Regions from separate parts of the Homo sapiens genome. Here region 2 is reported to be linked to region 1. Evidence: microRNA targets listed by miRTarBase, many of them from high-throughput screens and not tested one by one. Region 1 holds a microRNA gene; the other region holds the end of a gene's coding sequence.

Region 1 (4,403 bases):
TTTGGGTATCCAGTTACTGTGAGAGTGTCCTACGACCATACAAACTAAATTTACAGAAAAAGAAAAAGAAGAAAAAAGAAACCAGCATCATCATGGTAATAACAGTAACACAAGTGATATACAAGGAACAATCTGACCACATGCTACTTTTTCTTTTCACTGTTTTCCTCCATGTTGAGTCCTTAGGATCCTATATGCCAAGCTTCTCCAACCCATGGCCCACGATGACTTTGAATGCGTCGCAAACCCGTAAACTTTCTTAAAACGTTATGAGATTTTTTGAGTTTTTTTTTAAAGCTCATCAGCTATTGTTAGTGTTTTTTTTGTTTTGTTTTGTTTTTGTTTGAGATGGAATCTCACTCTATAGCCCAGGCTGGAGTTCAGTGGCACTATCTTGGCTCACTGCAACCTCTGCCCCCTGGGTTCGAGTGATTCTCCTGCCTCAGCTTCCCGAGTAGCTGGGATTACAGGCGCCTGCCACCACACCCGGCTAATTTTTGTATTTTAGTACAGACGGGATTTCTCCCTGTTGGCCAGGCTGGTCTCAAACTCCTGACCTTAAGTGATCTGCCCACCTCGGCCTCCCAAAGTGCTGAGATTACAGGCGTGAGCCACTGCACCTGGCCAACATTAGTGTATTTTATGTGTGGCCCAAGACAATTCTTCTTCCAGTGTGGCCCAGGGAAGCCAGAAGATTGGACATCCCTGCATATGCGTTGTTTTTCTCCCCTAACTTAAAAAAAATTAAATTATACACCTACAGAAAAATTGAAAGATTAATATGACACCCATAAAGATCTTTACCTGGATTATCAATTTTTAACCATTTATCTCATTTGTTTTATCTCTCATTTGTTGAACCATGTAAAAGGAAAGTACAGACTTGTGACATGTAACACATCAGGATAGAACAAGGACAGGTCTCTGCAAAACCATAATACTCAAGAAAATTTCAAACTCAAGAAATTTAGCATTGATACAATGATATTATCTAATAAAGTCCATATTCAGGCCGGATGTGGTGGCTCACACCTGTAATCCCAGCACTTTGGGAGGCCGAGACGGGCAGATCACTTGAGGTCAGGAGTTCAAGATCAGCCTGACCAACATGGTGAAACCCCATCTCTACTAAAAATACAAAAATTAGTCGGGCATGGTGGTGAGCATCTGTAATCCCAGCTACCTGGGAGACTGAGGTATGAGAATTGCTTGAACCCGAGAGGCAGAGGTTGCAGTGAGCCAAGATAGCACCACTGCACTCCAGTCTGGATGACAGAGCGAGACTCCGTCTCAGGAAAAAAAAATCAGTATTCAAAGTTTTCCACTTATCTCAATTATGTCTTTTATACCTTTTTCAAAATACTAGAATGCCGTCAGGGATCTGACATGACCTTTAGTTGTCATGTGTGTTTACCCTTCTTTAATCTAGAACGCTTCCTTAACCTTTTACTTTGTTTTTATTGTTGAAGACACTAGCTTGCTTTTTGGTAGAATGTCCCACAATCTGGATTTAGCTGATTGCTAAATGTAAGCTGATTGCTTATATTGAAGTTAAATATAGACATGTTGTCCTTTTTAGTGAGTTAAATCAGGAGTCACTAATGTTGTTGTGTCCCATAATTAAATAATGAAATCTGAAATCACCAATAATGGGACACTAATGTGATTAATGTTGTTGTGTCCCATTATTGGTGATTTCAGATTTCATATATGATTAAGGACATATCTACCAGATTTCTTTATAAAGGTGCCTTTTTCCCTCTGTAATAAGTAAGCTATAGGATAATGCTTGAGTCTATGAATATCCTATTTCCCAATGGCCCTTCACCCACTGGTTTTAGCATTCATTGTTAGTTCAGCGCCTGAATTAGTTATTACATTGACGTGTCCCAAATGATGATTTTTAAAAATTCTGTCTTTTATCATTTATCAGCTGCTATTATTTTGTAAAATAAGAGATGTCCCAACCCATTCATACATATTTGAATATATTCCAATTTGAATATATATATATATATATATATATATATATATATATATATATATATGTATTTTTTAAAATATCGCTATCTGAGTATCACCATGGACTCTTTTTTAAAAAGTTCACTTTATTATAAGCCATTATCATAATTTTCATTTGGATGCTCAAATTATGCCAAATTTGGCTAGCTCCTTTAAGCTGGTTTCTGTCCTTTAACATGTCCTCATCAGTTTTAGGGCGCTTTCTGGAACAGCATAAATGCTCCACATACTTGGTATTTTTTCAGTGAACTGAAATCAGACATTTTTTCAAGAGCACTGGTTCCTTTCTGGGGAATGAATTTCAAAACCAAGATCTAGGTGTTAGTGTGCTCATTGCTATTGGGGTTCACTGCTTCTAGTTTATTTCTATGACGAGAACTAGACAGCGTTTTTATGCACACGCGCGTGCACACACACACACACACGCACACACAGTTTTACGTACTTTTTTTTTTTTTTTTGAGATGGAGTCTTGCTCTGTTGCCCAGGCTGGAGTGCAATGGCGCAATCACTACAACCTCCACTTTCCAGTTTCAAGCGATTCTCCTCCCTCGGCCTCCTGAGTAGGTGGGATTACAGGCAGATGCCGCTCTCCCAGTTAGTTTTTGTATTTTTAGTAGAGATGAGGTTTTGCCATGTTGCCCAGGCTGGTCTCTAACTCCTGACCTCAGGTGATCCACCTGCCTCGGCCTCTCAAAGTGCTGGGATTACAGGCATGAGTCACCATGCCTGGCCTACATAAAGAATTTTTAGTGATACTTTCAAGCCAGCATTTTAGTGATACTCTCAGTTTCAAGAGTTCTTTCCACTCTTTCCCTCATTCCCTTTTTGTAGCTTCCTTTTCTCAGAGTGAGAACCCTGCATCCAAATATCATCAATATATTTATTTGTTGTTTCACAGTAAATACTAAATAGTTTTGGGAATTCATACGTCAGTTCCACTACTAGTTCCAATAACAAACTCATTAAAGTTCAAATGTTTTGCAATTCTTTTTGTCCTTAGAATACGTTCCAGTGAGTATAGACAGTTAAGATACTCTGTAAACTGGAATTAAAAACTGAGATTACTTTTTATTAATATCATATAAAGTTTATTTCCATTTGTATTCAGTTTTAGGGCTCTCCCCATCTTTATTGATTTAATTTTTGAATGTGAAAAACAGTAACATTTTTTTCCATTTCACAGGAAAATAATTTAGTGCTCATTACAGCTCATGATGTGCTGTTTTATTAAGGTTTGAGTTTATGCTGTTACTATCAATGGGGGTCTTTTGTTTGCTATAGCATTATAATAATCATTATCATTTGAAAATGTTGGCTGGGTGCTGCGGTTCACACCTATAATCCCAGCATTTGGGGAGGCCAAGGTGGGGAGATTGCTTGAGCCCGGGAGTTTTGAGACCAGTCTGGGCAGCATAATGAGACCCTGTCTTAACAAAAAAATTTTTAAAAATTAGTTGGGCATGGTGGCACATGCCCGTAGTCAGTCTTAGCTACTCAGGAGGCTGAAGCAGGAGGATCACCAGAGCCTGGGAAATTGAGGCTGCCGTGAGCTGTGATCGCACCACTGTACAAGGCTGGATGACAAAGCAAGACCCTGTCTCAAAAAAAAAAAAAAAAGAAAGTTGATGTTTCAGTTGTAAATTGACTTTCTGAACAATTCAGTTAAATCCAGGAGTTCTTTAGATTGGATGCTCTGCTGAGTGTTACTATTCATTCACAAACAAAGGGTATTTAGATATGAATGAGGGTGCTACTCTCCTTCACTCTATTCAGGAGAATTAAACAAGAACAAGAACAGAGACAAAGATGATTTAACTGATCAAGAGTACAAAGTTCGAGGCTGGGCACTGGTCGTTCATGCTTGTAATCCCAGCACTTAAGGAGGCAGAGGTGAGAGAATAGCTTGAGCCCAGGAGTTCAAGACCAGGCTGGGCAACATAGCAAGACAAAAAGGAAAAAAAAAAGGAGGGCAAAGTTTGAAAGTATAGGTCAGATTGGCTTTGTTGCTCTCCTTCTAATGAAAGCTTTCAGCCCTAGAACATGTCAGATAGCTTTTTGGGAATTGTCTTTTGTAGTGTTTTTTGTTGTCTTTCTGGTTTCTAAAAATGAGAATGGTTTTTCTGATATCAGAGTAACCCATAAAGGTGTGAATAAAGTGAAGATCATTCATATACTTACCAGTCAGTAATAACCACTGGGAAAATTTTCGTGGTAAACAAACCTGCTATCCAGAAGGTTCTGTAACTTGCCTTTTTGTTTTCATATAACAGGGTATCTTGGACATTTTTTCATGTCAGTAAATATAGATATATCTCATTACTTTTAATGGTTATATATTGTACTGTTATATTAATATGCTATAATTATATTGATGAATT
Region 2 (4,403 bases), not on the chromosome of region 1:
ATATTGTTTTTAACACAAAGGATAAATCTTTGAAGGGGTAGTTACCCCATTCTCCATGATGTAATTATTAACATCTAGTCTCTGATAGTACCATTCCTGTAATCCAAGCACTTGGGGAGGCTGAGGCGGGTGGATTGCTTGAGCCCAGGAGTTGGAGACCAGTCTGGGCAACATGGCAAAACTCCATCTCTACAAAATACAAAAATTATCTGGATGTGGTGAAGAGCTCTTGTAGTCCCAGCTGCTGGGGAGGCTGAGGTGGTAGAATCACCTGAGCCTGGGGAGGTTGAGGCTGCAGTGAGCTGTGATCACACCATTGTACCTCAGCCTGGGCAACAGAGAGAGACACTGTGTCAAAAAATAAATTAGTCTATGAAATATATCTGGAAATGTAAAATGTAAGCTGAGAATGACTATTTTGAAGGAGTCAACAGTGTGATGTTCTAGGAGAATTGCATTCTATGGAGAAGGAACAAGTGTAAAGGCTTAATATTGTAAGGTTACATGTGGTAAAATATTTTTAAAAATCCAATGCAACAAGTGCATGGTAGACAAAAGGAATAGTGTTGTCACATGAGGGCAGGGAAATAGTCAGCACACAGATCATTAATGCATTATAAGCCAGAGCAAAAGAAAAGTTGATGGTAAGTGTGGCATCAGTACACTAGAAAGCTTTGACCAAGGGAGAAACATGATGGTTTCTATATGAAGAATGGGATATGGCGTTGTGGAGAGACATGAAGCAGGGGCTTCCCCTGCACTTAGAGGGCTTTGGAGTTTTCAAGTAAGAGATAATGGTTGATTGGACTTTTAGTGTACAGAAGTGGTAGAAATGTAATGAATTATACCAACTCGAGTATTTTGTAGGTAGACAGGATAGGACTTACTACTAGTAGGCAGGGTGAAGAAAAAAGAGTAATTAGGGATGACTCACTGATTTTGGATTAAGCTACAGATTGGATACCAACGTCATTTAATGGGTTTGGCAGAACTTGGGGAGAAAGAGGCATTGCTGGAGGGATGTCAACAGTTCTCTTTGGGATTTGTTAATTTTGAGATACCTGGAAGCTAGTCAACTAGGTGCTTAAGTAAGTATTTGGATATGGGAATATGGAACTGAGTAAATAAGTAAATACTAGATTTAAATATAAAATTCAACAGCATAAGAATGGTATGTAAAGCCATTTTTTTCATTTTTATTTTTTATTGGAATAACTGAGAAAACAACATAGATGTAAATGAAGAGGTACTGGAATAAAAGGACACTGCTATTAAATTTAACTACAAGAAAATTTAGTGATGGCGCACCTCAGTAGGATATTAAAGGTAGAAGCTCAATTTTTCTGTCATTTTACATTACATTTCAATCTAAAACCTGACTTTTGAATCCTATTGGTGAAAATAATTTTAAGGGCCTTTTTATAGAGGAAAAAGAGGATTTGAAATGATTTCCTAAATCTTCAGAGAGATGGTAACATTTCCAGAAAAGTTTAGCAATCTCAACACATAATTTTACTATATGCAGAGGAAGATGATGAGCAGGTTCCTAGAGGGAGTGGGAGGAGAACAAAGGGCCAGGATTTGACTCCCTCTGCCATTACAGCTGACCCAGGCTAACAACGTGTGATCACCTGGCAGATCAGGAGTTACAATAACCACTGACTCTTAGTAGTTGATGCAGGAGGGACAGGACCCAATGTTAAGTGTTAAAGAAAAACAATTATTCCTTACTGTTCCTTGGAAGGTAGCTCTTAGGAACATACAGACTAGGAGACCCTTCCTTTAATGTCCAAGAGAAGCTTTATGTTGCATCCAAAGTTTGTGTCAGGAAGAATAAAAAGAGAAAATCATTTAGCAAGTTCTGCAGCAACACTGAGTTTATTTAAGAAAATGTTAAATCAGAAATAAATGAATTGTCATTTAATTGAGAAGTTCAAGGATATTGCATTTTGCTTAATACTGCTTTTTATTTTTTCCTCAAATCAACAGGACTTATGGGTCACAACAGAGTTTAATACAGAGTTTTACTGTTTTAGAGACAGTAAGTTAATTGTTTCCACATCTAAATAAATATTATGTATATATTCTTACTCTGTTACACTCTGTTAAATTTTGGTTAATTTAGTTTTGTGAAGTATTTAGCCATTTATCAAGTAGCTCTTTCATATGCCTCATTTAAATTTGTTCTTGTTGGTAATAAACAATTTTGAGTTTCATCCTTCTTTCAATCAAAATAAATTGATTAATATTTTCTATTTTAAAACTTTGGATGCTTAATTGGTAATAATATCATCTATCATAAGCTAGTAACCTCTCCCTCATGACAGACTTCCTTAACCTTTCCACAGACACTTTTTAAAGCTTCATTTATTTCGTTGTCTCTCCATGTTCTTTGAATATTTCTTAACATGAGAAAGTCCAAACTTCATAAAATTCTAAAAGAAATTTACTCAGAAAATTACAGAGATAATATAAGAACAGTGTCAATTTGAACCTTTAGTTTGATGTTTATTATTTTAAATTTATTTAATTTGATCAGTAAAAGCATATTTATCGTGTACAATATGATGTTATGAAGCATGTATACATTGTGGAATCCTGAAATCTTGCTAATTGACATAAGCATCACCTCACATGGTTATCATTTATGCGATGAGAGCACAATGTTCATTCTCTTAGCATTGATTTTTCAAGAATACAATATATTGTCATTAACTATAGTCACCATGCTATAAAATAGATCTTTTGAACTTATTCCTCCTATCTAATTATAATTTGGTTCAATTATTATTAAATCTACTATGTACCCTCAAAAATGAAAAAGACAATAATTAATTCAATCTGGCTTAAAATAAAACAAAACTGGCCGGGCGCGGTGGCTCACGCCTGTAATCCCAGCACTTTGGGAGGCCGAGACGGGCGGATCACGAGGTCAGGAGATTGAGACCATCTTGGCTAACACGGTGAAACCCCGTCTCTACTAAAAATACAAAAAAATTCAGCTGGGCTTGGTGGCAGGCGCCTGTAGTCCAGCTACTTGGGAGGCTGAGGAAGGAGAATGGCGTGAACCCAGGAGGCGGAGCTTGCAGTGAGCCGAGATCGCGCCACTGCCCTCCAGCCTGGGCGACAGAGAGAGACTCCATCTCAAAAAATAAATAAATAAATAAATAAATAAGTAAACAAAACAAAACTGACTTACCAAGTGTGCTTCTTTTGGATTGGAAGTGGCACATCCAACAACCATAAACATGACTGTGGTTGTTTAAACTTCAGAAAGAAAGATGTAGGCTCATCGGGTGGTAATACATTTTTTTTCTTTTCTTTTACTTTTTTTTTCTTTTTGCCAAAGGAATGCTATATTTACTTGAAAGTAGGCTTTCTACAAGGTGTTTAACTTCATTTCATGGCTCCTATATTTTTTTGTATCTGTGGATGCAGCTTGAGATTATTTTAAATCTATAGATACAACATCTGTCTCCTTGGATTCTTTAAGCCTTCATTAAACTGTGTGTGTGTGTGTGTGTGTGTGTGTGTGTGTGTGTGTGTGTGTGTGTGTGTGTCCATAGATTTAGTGTCATTATCTTCAACATCCTTATCTGAATATTCTTCTTTAAATCTTTCTAGAGATCATTCATTGAATCCTTCATATCCCCGAATATAAGTATATGTATTCTTCAAGTCTTTCAATGGATCCCCCCTTAATTTTTCTTAACATCTTTCTTATATATTTTTATAAATCTCTGCTGAGTTCTCCTTTGTATCCTTCTTTACCACCTTTTAAAAATTATTTAATTCTTTGAGGCCTCTTGTTTTCTCACAAATTCAGCTGCAGACTACCACTATTGTTTCATCAAATATGCTTTTGAATTATTCTTTCGGTTCAAATTCTTATCCAAGGCCTACTTGCCCTTCTTCTTTGCATCCTTCTTTTCATCCTTCTTTGCATTCTTCTTTGCATCCTTCTTTGCATCCTTCTTAGCATTTTTCTTTGCATCCTTCTTTGAATCAGCAGATTCTTTCTCAGTATCTTTCTTGGCAACTTTCTTGGCATCTTTCGTGGCGTCCTTCTTAGACTCTTTCTTGACATCATCCTTTGAGTCACTGTCTGTACTACTGGGCTTCTTCTTATCTTTCTTACCTTTTTTAATCTCCTTTGCATCTTTCTTGGCATCCTTCGATTCATCACCTTTGTTTGCATCTTTTTTTCCATCCTCATCCTTCTTTTCATCTGCTTTTACAGCTTGTAATTCTATGGCTGAATCCTTGCCCTTCTTTGAATCCTTTTTACCTTTTTTGCTATCTTTCTCTGTACCTCCTTTTTCACCTTCAGATTCTGTTGCCGAGTCTTTGCCTTTGTTTGAATCCTTTTTATCTTTTTTGTTATCTTTCTTTGCACCTCCTTT

The links. Region 1 holds the annotated microRNA hsa-miR-3657 (UGUGUCCCAUUAUUGGUGAUU, at 1,677-1,697, shown strand). A microRNA usually pairs through its seed, bases 2 to 8, with sites in the 3' UTR of a target mRNA and lowers its output. Matches are read on the target gene's strand: a 7mer-m8 pairs with bases 2 to 8, a 7mer-A1 pairs with bases 2 to 7 and ends in A, and an 8mer does both.
Region 2: the mRNA of CYLC2 is a reported target of hsa-miR-3657. Seed matches in the 3' UTR shown: 7mer-A1 at 3,556-3,562.

The regions. Positions count from the first base shown.
Region 1 is chr12:112,034,921-112,039,323 of GRCh38, reverse strand. MIR3657 (microRNA 3657) reads left to right here and starts at 1,609; the gene lies at 1,609-1,725. NAA25 (N-alpha-acetyltransferase 25, NatB auxiliary subunit) reads left to right here. Exons shown (of 24, transcript NM_024953.4): 22 at 1-95.
Region 2 is chr9:103,005,175-103,009,577 of GRCh38, reverse strand. CYLC2 (cylicin 2) reads right to left here. Exons shown (of 8, transcript NM_001340.5): 5 at 3,200-4,403. The coding sequence ends at 3,900. Among named protein-coding and RNA genes, the nearest start is that of CYLC2, 12 kb to the right of the region's middle.